4 separate regions of the Homo sapiens genome follow, and all the other regions are linked to region 3. The links come from fine-mapping of genetic effects on gene expression. A gene starts in region 3. Each other region holds a variant in brackets. All regions are shown on one strand. Distances are between the middles of the regions.

Region 1 (2,689 bases), 97 kb after region 3:
CCTGGGCCTCAGTCTTCCCCTCCTGAAAATGGCAAATCTGCTTTAGGCAAAGAGCTGAACCACCTGAATCCAAGTGGCTTTCCATTCAGGGAATGTGCAGGGCAGACCCTTGGACCACATCTCTGACCCTGGTCCCCACACCCCAGCTGAAGGCAAGAAGGAGTCACCACCAGTAAGCAACTTCCAAAATGGGGTCACAAGTGCAGCTGCCTGCTGCCTCAAATGCAAACAAAGCCTAGAAGCTTCAAACTTGTGCTTCAAACTATGACCTGAGGACCCAGAAAAAGTCTGAGAGAGTGAGTCCCTCTACTTTCAACCTTGGGAGTTATTTTCTTCAGCACAAAACTAGAGGGGGCTCACAGGTCAGATCCAGGATTCCTGGGCTCCAAGTCTGCTCCCTCATTCACCATCTTATCACCTTGGACAAGTCTCTGGGCCTCAGTTTCCCATCTGCAACTTGAGGGAAACAAACTAAGGAGGGAGACCGCATTTGTCTAACTTCAAGAGAATGAATGTGCATTGCCTTTGTTTTAAAATAGTTGGTCATATCTGATATAAAGTTGTCCAAAGGAAAGCATTACCCAACTCCCAGCCTGACATAGAGGGGGAAGCATGGGATTGGTGTGGGCGAAGGATTACCCAGGTGCCGAGGCAAGAGACTGAAGGCATAAACTGTAGCTATACTGCTATACAGTTGTAATACAAATTAGATATACAGATGATCATGGACAATTATCGATTATTAGTATAAACATTATTAATCATTAGTTTTTAATATTACTCTTTATTGTAGTACAATATAACCTAGGAATAACCGGTGGGTATAGGGTCAGGTACTGAAGGGACATTCTGAGAAGTGACCTAGAAGGCAAGAGGTGAGCCCTGTCACACCCGCATAAGGGCCGCTTGAGCGCTCCTTGGTCAAGCGGTAACGCCAGTGCCTGGGAAGGCACCCATTACTTAGCAGACCGCAAAAGGGAGTCTCCCTTTCCTTGGAGGAGTCAGGGAACACTCTGCTCCACCAGCTTCCTGTAGGAGGCTGGATATTATCCAGGCCTGCCCGCAGTCATCTGGAGGCCTAAACCCCTCCCTGTGGTGCTGTGCTTCAATGGTCACGCTCCTTGTCCACTTTCATGTTCCTCCTGTACTCCTGGTTCCTCTTTGAAGTTTGTAGTAGATAGCGGTAGAAGAAATAGCGAAAGTCTTAAAGTCTTTGATCTTTCTTATAAGTGCATAGAAGAAAATGCTGACTTATGCTGCCTTCCCTCTCTGCTTCGGCTACCTTAGAGGGAAGAGCCCCCGTCCCATGATCACATGACTTGCTTGACCTTATCAATCACTTGGATGACTCACCCTCCCTACCCTGCCCCCCTTGTCTTGTGTGCAATAAATATCAGTGTGCCCAGCCATTCGGGGCCACTACCGGTCTCTGTGTCTCAGTGGTAGCAGTGCCCCGGGCCCAGCTGTTCTCTCTTTATCTCTTTGTCTTGTGTCTTTATTTCTTACAATCTCTCGTTTCC[G/A]CACACAGGGAGAAAACCCGCTAAGCCCCGTAGGGCTGGACCTTACAGATTGGGAGGCTGACAGATGTGGGGATCAACCCCATATCTGCCTCTTACTGGCTGTGAGATCTGGAGCATGATGCTTTGCCTCTCTGGACCTCAGTTTCCTCATCTGTAGAATGGGGACAATAACTTCACAGTAGGTTTATTGTGAGAATTTAATTAATATCTGTAAATCTCTCACCACAAGAACAGACACAGGGTAGACGCTATTCATGCCACAAAGATTTAGAGAGCATCTTCTCAGTACCAGCATTACACAAAGGCTGCTGAGGCCCTGGGAACAGTGACGTGGTTCCTTCTCTCCAGAAGCAAAAGGAAACACAGGGTGTGGTGAGAGATAACCAAGGCTGGGCCGCAGCGGGGAGCTCATTCAGAGAGGGTGCTTAGGAGGTGACATTTAAGCTGAGTCCCAAAGAGTGAGAAGGGGCCAAGCATATAGAGAGCAGAAGGACGAGTATTCCAGGCAGAAGGAACAACATGTGCTAAGGCCTGAAGGCAGGAAGCTGCTCTTAGCACATCTCAGAGACTCAAAGGCAGCCAATGTGGCTGGAGAAAGCAGAGGCCAGGAGGCAGCAGCACAGCCAGACCACGGGGACTTTAACAAGGCACCCGGCAAAACCAGCTCCACACTACTACAACCCCGTTCTCAGAGGCCACCACCCCTACCTTCACAGAGAGCACCCCTGTACACCTTACTAGTCCATCAACCAGAAATGGAAGGAAGGCGTCTCCTGTGTCTTTGATGCCAACTCGGAGCCCAGGCAAAATCTGGACCAGAGTTGGGGTTCATAAGCATTCGCTGAATAAAAAAAAATGAATAAAGTGATGGCAGGATTCATTGTTATTCCACTCAAATTAGGAAAGGCTGACTGCTGACATGGGGGAAGGGAGGTTTTGCCTTGGCAACTAGTCTTGCCTGGCAAGGCAGCCATCACGGTTGGAATGTCCAATGCCTGCAGAGAAAGCTTCAGAAGAGGCTTGTTCAGCTGGAAGGCCAAAGGGCCAACTCTCCACCCCCAGCACTGTATCAGAGGACAGCGGAATGGGGCTCTCTCTTCCAGACATCTGTAGTGGCTGCCCTGCACATTCTGATGTTGAAACAGCGGGACATGGTGTCTGAAAACACC
Region 2 (2,689 bases), 130 kb before region 3:
AGACATACTTAGATGCTGTGAGGCAACTGTTTTCTGTGCTTCACCTAGAAAGGCAGAGTAGGACAGGTGGAAGAAAGACAAGAATGAAACAGACACAGAGAAACAGAGGTGAGGTATGAGGACTGCTCAGATAGCTGAGGGCTTTCTGACTGTGACTACCTCCCTTGAGAGGTCCGGTCACTTAAGCCTCAAGGCTTCACAAAGCATTCTTGAGTCCATTCCGAATTTTAGTCCTTAAGTCCCCTGAATTGTTGCCCTTTACTTACAACCAAAGAGTTTGTTGAGACAAATACATACGCAACAGAAGTTTTGACTTCATTATGAAATAAGTGACTTTTATAATGAAATTAGATTTGAGTTGTCAGATAGGTGGCCTCCTCTATCTTTGTGTCATTACAAGAACTGTTCTTTCTTCCCGCATCACACAAGCTCATAACTTGTTGGAGTTTTTTCTGCGCTGTGGGATTCAATGCATGCCTGCAGACCTCAGCCCACTGAGAATCCTTGGAGGCAGGAGTCCTGTTGACTCCCCTCTGCAACCGCAAGGTCTAGCAAGCATTTAAATGCCCGTGGCACGTGGAAGTTCTTTTTTTTTTTTTTTCCAGTAAATGCCAAGTGAGCAAGTCTCCACACTCAGGTTTGCAATGATGTGCCTGATTTTGCCCAAATTGGTGTCCTTGGAGAGCCTGCTGTAGAAGAAAGTGCTGTTCTAGAAACAGCCCTGGAAATTAGAAAGGAAGGGCCTAGTTTCCCATTATTCTGTGTTCTTGGACTTGGATAATTCTCAAGTACTGTCATCCAGGCAAATATTTTGCTAGTGTTCACCAAAGAAAATTAGCAACAGCTTGGCAATATTTAATGAAAAATTATTGATAATTAAAAAGTCTTCATTATCACTGATGCAGAATAAGAGACCATCATGTAAAAATGAGAAAAATACCATACTGGCATTTTTTTTAATGGGGCATAACATAACCTTTCTACCTTTTTCTAGGCCAAATGTTAGCTGAATTTTTAAGTTTGCCAGCATAGTTTAAGATAGGTTCCAAAACAAAAAAAGGTTGACTCTAAACAACATATATCCATTGTGATCGATGCATCACACATATTATTCATTGGAGGAAATGTTACGCTTCTTAGGTAACTTCATGGGGGGAAATCTTGAAAACAAGAGTAACCACTTATTGAGCATCCACTCTTCTCCTGGAACTTTATGTTATTTATGAACATTATTGCTAACACTCCTGATTACCTGGAAAAGTATATTTTATTATTGCCCTCTTGCATTTATGGAAATCAAAGTCTGCCCAGGGTCACACAGCTGGTAAAAGGTTTGGGCTGGGATTCATGTGCATCCTATTTCCAAAGTCTTGTCCTTGACACATTTTAGCCCAATAAGCAAATAAGGATATTATTTTGCATAAACTCTTTGGGTTGCTATTTTCCTAAAGGACCTCAGTGGCACAGCCAGAGCTTTTTATTATAAATAGACTAGTAATGTAAACGCTTCACCAAGGCTGGGGTGAGTTGGTGTCAGGCATCCCTTGCACATCACTCTGCTAAAGTAGGCAATAGCAAGCCTCATGCTTCACATGACAGGGTCAGCCAACTCCACCCAGTGCCTTTCCTGTGGGTTGCAACAGTAATATTAATAGATA[T/C]CAGATAAGACCATCTTGAGTCCATCTGGCACGTGTTCCCATTACACTGCCTCAGAAAAGAAATTTTAACAGAACAAAAATCTCTCATAAATCTGCATAAGTATACAATTCTACTGTTGAAGCGTACCACTGTGTTGTTAATAGTTACTTCCGAAATCATGCCAACCGCAGAAAAATACAGGTAGAAGGTATCCCTGTCTTTACATATAAGTCCAAGGAAAGAATGCCAGGCCACAGGCTCATGGAATTGGGTCCCAGGAGAGGAATTTATCACTCTGAATTTAATTTTGAAAACAAATTCTCATTTCTTCTTTGCATTTTTCAAAAAGATAACTCCTTTTTTTTTTTTTTTGATGGAGTGTCACTCTGTCTCCAGGCTGAACTGCAGTGGCTCAATCTCGGCTCACTGCAACCGCCACCTCCCAGGTTCAAGCGATTCTCCTGCCTCAGTCCCCTGAGTAGCTGGGATTATAGGCAAGCACCAACACGCCCAGCTAATTTTTGTATTTTTAGTAGAGACGGGGTTTCACCATCTTGGCCAGCATGGTCTTGATCTCTGGACCTCGTGATCTGCCTGCCTCAGCCTCTCAAAGTGCTGGGATTACAGGCGTGAACCACTGTGCCCATTGAGAACTCCTGCTTTAATGACACATGGCAGGACTGTTCCTTTAGGAAGTACTTAGACAAAAAGGAAAGGTTCAGCATGGTCTTGTGTGATATCTATTTTTATAATTGCTACAAACCATGGGGAAAACACTGGGCAAAACTGGAACTGTTCAATCTTTTAGGCCTCAGTTATACAGAGAACACGGAGCTGGAATTAGCTTTGGAAAACCTGAATTCAAGCCTGGCTCTGATATTTAAAGACTGTGTGTCCTTAGAAAAGTCACTTCACCTCCCTGAGCTTTTGTTTTCTTCTCTATATAATGGAGTAAGTCATAGCTGACTGGATTATTTATAAAAACTAAATGATATAGTTTAAATGAAAGCCTTCCTAGCTAGGGTCAGGTAGCTAGGGCATTGTAATTATA
Region 3 (2,689 bases):
TGAACACAGGAGGCAGAGGGTTGCAGAGAGCCGAGATCGTGCCATTGCACTCCAGCCTGGGCAACAAGAGCAAAACTCCGTCTCAAACATAAAATAAAATAAAATAAAAACTATCTATCTGATTAACATGAAGTACCACCTTAAACACCACAGTTTCTCATGTACTTCTAATTCTGGGCTCTTCATCCCATTCCATTGAACAGTCATGTCCGGACCAGTAATGTGCTGGTTTTTGCCTTGTGACAGAGGCGGTGTCGTGTGATGGGGTTGAAGCACATAGATGCATAGTTTTTGCAGGCAGAACGCCTGCATCAAACCCCTGATCCCCTACTCCTACTTGTGTGACCTTACACAAAAGTGTAAGTGTGATACTTACACTTTTGGGCTTCCATTTCCTATCTGAAAATGGCAGCAGTATCAGTACCTGCATCATAGCTTGTTGTGATGAATAAAATGCATTAATCCACGTAGAGCACTTCCTTAAATAGTAAGCACTCAAACAATGTATTTTATTTATTCATTTATTCATTTATGCATGCAAGCATTTCTTCATTTTAATATCCAGCAGGGCTAGCTTCCCTTATGCTCTTCCTTATCAACATTTTGTTGCCTGGTCTCTTTATTCTTCCACATGACACTGAGAATCATGTCAAGTTAAAAAGAAAATTCTACTTGGAATTTGATAGAGATGGCATTGAATTGACAGATAAAGAGGACATGATGGGATTACAGTGTTTACTTCTTCTTGCCCAAGAATAAGGCGTGCGTCATAATAGATTCAAGTCTTCTCTAGTCCCCTAGTAGAGAAGGTTGTTTTTTTTTTTTTTTCTTTCACATTTCATGATAAGTTTATTTTTCCTAGCTACTGTGGCTTGGCTATTAGTGAGAATGGGATTTTTTATTTGCCTTTCAAAATGGTTAGTAAGTGCACAAGAACACCGTTAATTTGGTATGTTTATTTTGTAGCCTGCCAATTCCTTGGAAAGGCTATTATTTCAACAATCTTCAGTTTGCACTTTCCAACTACACAATCACATCCGCTGCAAACAGTAATCATTTTTCTCCCGCTTCACATATATATAATATATATACATATATACACACATATAGAATATATATTTTTTTAACAAAGGCACAACTTCAGTATTTTTACACCTTATTTCCTTCTCTTGTCTGATTGCATTGACCAGACGTCCCAAACCGGCCCCCTGCTCTTGCCCCTAACTTTAATGGAAATGTTTGGCTTGCTATGAAGCATACTGCAGGAGAAGGCTTTGAGAGGGTTTTGCTGTCGTTGTTGTTTGGGGGGATTTTTTTTTTTAACTGTAAAGAGAATATCTGAAGAAAATGCATTTGAAGAGCATATTGGAATAGCCCAGATTGGTTTGTGCGCCTGCAAGGAGCTCTTGGGCCCCCTCCCCTCGCTGCCAACGCTCTGCCCCGGGGGCTGAAGTTTCTCTCTGCGTTTCCGCTTGAACAGCGTCCAGCTGCCTCGCCTTTAAAATGCCAGGACGGCCGCGGCTCCGCTCAGAGCCCCCTCTCGGCTGCTGGCCCGGGCTCGCCCGCGCCGCTGGGGGCTCTGACTCCTGCCGAGCCGGGCCTGGGCAGCGCCCCCCGCGCCCCGCGAGCCCGCGCCCCCGTCACCGGGAAACGCCGTAGCCGGCGATCCGCGGTCGCCCTGGGCTCGGCGCCGGCCCAGCCAGGACCCCGGGAGCGCACGGGACGGGCCTCGCCAGGTAAGGACCGCGGGAGCATCCCGGGACCCGCTGCCGCGGCGCCTGCGGGGCTGGAGCACAGCATTGTCGGTGCCGCCGGGGCGTCGCGCGGGTCACCGGCCGCAGGCGGAGGATCTGCTCGCTGAAGTCGGGCCGAGCCCTGCCGCGGCGGCGAGGAGACCCGCGTGGACACTGGGACCGATCCCCTCCTCGGCGGCACTGCGCCCGGGGCGCGCCTCGGTCGGCGGGGAGGGCCGGACCCGCGCGGCAGGGGACAGCAGCCTCGGTGGGAGCCGCACGGGAGCCGCGTCGCAGCGGCCCGAGTTCCACTGCGGGGCTCGGGGCTCAGAAACCGGGAGAGTGTGGTGCTGTGCTCAGGCACCCTCGCTGTTCTGAGCCTCACCTCCCCATTCGGGGATCCTCGGCCTCTCTGCCATTGAGGGGTTTGGGGAGTGTGAGTTGAAACTGAATCAAAGTTAGAAAGTCCTTCTCGTCACGTTCAGTGCCTAAAATTCCCTCTCCTGTGGCTGACAGTCACATAGAACAGATTTTTTCTCAATGTAACTGATGAAGGTCAGCACGGATGTAACTTCTGGGGAAAGTTCTGCTGGTGGCAGCCTTTCTAAAGAAATGTCAAGTCTCCGTTGGATTTTGTTCTCATCTGTGGCAAAAACCCTAATCCACGCTTTCATATATTTTTCCGTATCAGTGGAGGCGTAGACCTATCCTGGGTTCTAATGTTTTGGGGAATGTATTATGGAGCCGAATTTGGTAAGAGTCTCCGTGCCCGCAGCAAAAGTTCTGGAAAAGAACCTGTTAGAAAATCCAAGCTGATGCACCGCCTCACCAGGCGTGCAATAGGGCCACAGTGGCCTGTCAGGATGTGGCTCGGGACCCAGGAAAAAAGCTCCATCGAAGCCTGTGCTGCCTTCGTGGGGAGAAGTTCCATTCTAACCCACTCGTGCATCCGCCGG
Region 4 (2,689 bases), 29 kb after region 3:
AAGGACAATGGAATAGAATGGATAGATAATTCCATAACTAGACTGTTCTGGTTGCCTGTTGCTGTGTAGCTAAAGACCCCAAATCTTGGCTTATAACAATAGCAATTATTTTATTGTTCACAAATCTGGGAGTTAAGTGGGCTCAGCTAGGCTGTTCTCACTCAGGATCTCTCAGCTGATTGCAGTCGGTCGGTGGTTGGAGCTGGGCTGGGGTCTTCTGAAAGTCTTCTTCACTTGCATATCTGGCACCTGAGCTGGGGAGACTTACACAGCTGGGGCTGGAACTGCTGGGGTTCCTCAGGCATCCCTCTTTCCTCTTTAGTCTCTCCACTTAGTGATCGTCAGAGCAGCTGATTCTTGACATGGCGGCTCAAGGTTCCCAAAGTGAGTGTCCCAAGAGAAAACAGCAAAAATGATGTGGCCTTTTCTAACTCAGCCAAGTCACACAGCATCATTTCTACCTCATTTTATCCACTGAGGCAGTCACAAAGGCCTACCCAGGCTCAATGGGGGGACGCATGGACTCAACCTCTTCAAAGTATTTGTGGACATATTTTTAAATTAGCACATCAACCCTCACATATGGTTGCTTTTTTGTTTTGGGTATTTTTTTTTTTTTTGGCCAAAAAGCATATTAAAAGGTTCTAATTTCACATCAGAGAAATGCAAATAAAAACCACAATCTACCCCCAGAATGGCTGGAATTTACAAGGCCCAACCTACCAAGTGCTGATGAGGATGCAGAGCGACTGGGACTGTTGATAGGAGTGTCAATTTGTCCATCCACCATGGAAAACTCTGCCCATAATTGCAACAATTAAACATACACCTATACAGTCCAGCAACCTTCTAGATATACAACTAATAGAAATGGATACATATATCCACCAAAAGATAAACAAAGACAGACAAGAATTTCTTAGCAGCACTATTCATCATAGTCCCAAACTAGAAACAACCCAAATGTCCACTAGTTGTAGAGTGAATAAATCGTGATATCGTGCATTTCATACAATGGAATACTTCACAGCAATAAAAAAGAACTACTAATACATGCAAAAATATGAATAAATCTCGGCCGGGCGCGGTGGCTCAGGCCTATAATCCCAACACTTTGGGAGGCTGAAGCGGGCAGATCACCTGAGGTCGGGAGTTCAAGACCAGCCTAACCAACATGGAGAAACCTCATCCCTACTAAAAAAATACAAAATTAGCCGGACATGGTGGCACATGCCTATAATCTGGAGAATCGCTTGAACCTAGGAGGCGGAGGTTGAGGTGGGCCGAGAGCGCGCCATTGGATTCCAGCCTGGGCAACAAGAGCAAAACTCTGTCTCAAAAAAATAAGTAAATAAATAAAAATATGAATAAATCTCATAGACCT[T/G]ATGTTAAGTGAAAGAAGCCAGACACAAAAGAAAACATTCTGTATGATTCCATTTATATGAAGTTTCAGGACAGGTAAAACTAATCTGTGGTGATATCAGAATAGTGGTTTCTTCTAGGGGACAGGATACAAATGTGTGTCTGTATGTATTTGTGTTTATTTGTTTATTTATAACAAATATATCTAAGAAACATTGTCATATGTGAATCCATTGTAAAAGAAAAACACACTCAAGGAAATACTATGGCAGATTTAGTGAAACAAAGAAATAATTTTTTAAAAAAGATGCAGTAAAAAATAAAAAGCATTATAGAACAACAATAAAAGTAAAATAATGATAAGGCAAAACTGTAAGAAAAACAAGAAACTTGGCAGAATTACAACTATACCCATTTCAAAAACGTTCCTATTAATTGCATTAAAAAGAGAGGAGGAACTGTTAATAACAATTAAAAGAGATAATGTGTAAAACTCATTCATATCTTAATTCAAACAAACCTATTTTAAGAAAACAATTTTGAGATAATTGGGGAAAATTGACCATGAATTGGATATTGTATATTAGAGAGTTAGGGTTACATTTGTTGGTTATGATAGAAGTATTATAGTTATGACTATTTAAGAAAGAGTCATTAATTGTTAAAGCTTTAAATTGAAGTATTTTACTGGCAAAATGATATGTTACCTGGGATTTGCTTCAAAATACTCCAAAAAGGGGGGGTATGTTGATGAAATAAGAGTGGTATAATATTCATAATTGATCATCTGGATGATTGGTACATGTGGATTTATTATATCGCCATTTCTACTTTGTGTATGTTTTAAATTTCCATAAAATTTTAAATTCAAATTTTCCCTTACAAAAAGAATATAAACCTTAAAATTGGATGGATCAAATAGCCATGAAGAAATAGAGGATTCTAATAGCATAATGAATAATCTTGATTTAATGAATATATCTAAAATCCTATATGCCCCCAAAACAGAATATTACGTTTTTATAAATGTCCATGGAATCATTTCAAGAAACTGACTATGTATACACACATATAATGCAAAAAGCAACACCTATACAAGCTATATTCTCTGACCACGGTGCAATGAAACTAGAAATTAACAATTAAGAGAAACCCCAAATAAAATTTTCTAGCTATTTAATAATTTTTGAGAAACATATTTCCAAACAACATTTAAATCAAAATATAAACTTGAGACTACATAGAAATGAATAGCAGTTAGAGCAATGGTTTCCAAAATCTATGGCATGCAGCCAAAGTTATACTCAAAGAAATATATAAAGCCCTA

The links.
Region 1: its variant is fine-mapped to the expression of CTXND1 in sigmoid colon (GTEx, PIP 0.98).
Region 2: its variant is fine-mapped to the expression of CTXND1 in atrial appendage (GTEx, PIP above 0.99).
Region 4: its variant is fine-mapped to the expression of CTXND1 in lung (TOPMed, PIP 0.94).

What each region holds. Positions count from the first base shown.
Region 1 is chr15:80,154,401-80,157,089 of GRCh38, reverse strand. All of the region lies in intron 1 of FAH (fumarylacetoacetate hydrolase), which reads right to left. Among named protein-coding and RNA genes, the nearest start is that of FAH, 2.7 kb to the right of the region's middle. The variant G/A (reference allele first, on the strand shown) is at 1,521.
Region 2 is chr15:80,383,553-80,386,241 of GRCh38, reverse strand. All of the region lies in intron 3 of ARNT2-DT (ARNT2 divergent transcript), which reads left to right. Among named protein-coding and RNA genes, the nearest start is that of ARNT2-DT, 19 kb to the left of the region's middle. The variant T/C (reference allele first, on the strand shown) is at 1,659.
Region 3 is chr15:80,251,054-80,253,742 of GRCh38, reverse strand. CTXND1 (cortexin domain containing 1) reads left to right here and starts at 1,530. Exons shown (of 3, transcript NM_001352888.2): 1 at 1,530-1,736.
Region 4 is chr15:80,221,744-80,224,432 of GRCh38, reverse strand. The region is part of intron 1 of CTXND1 (cortexin domain containing 1); the gene reads left to right. Among named protein-coding and RNA genes, the nearest start is that of CTXND1, 29 kb to the left of the region's middle. The variant T/G (reference allele first, on the strand shown) is at 1,385.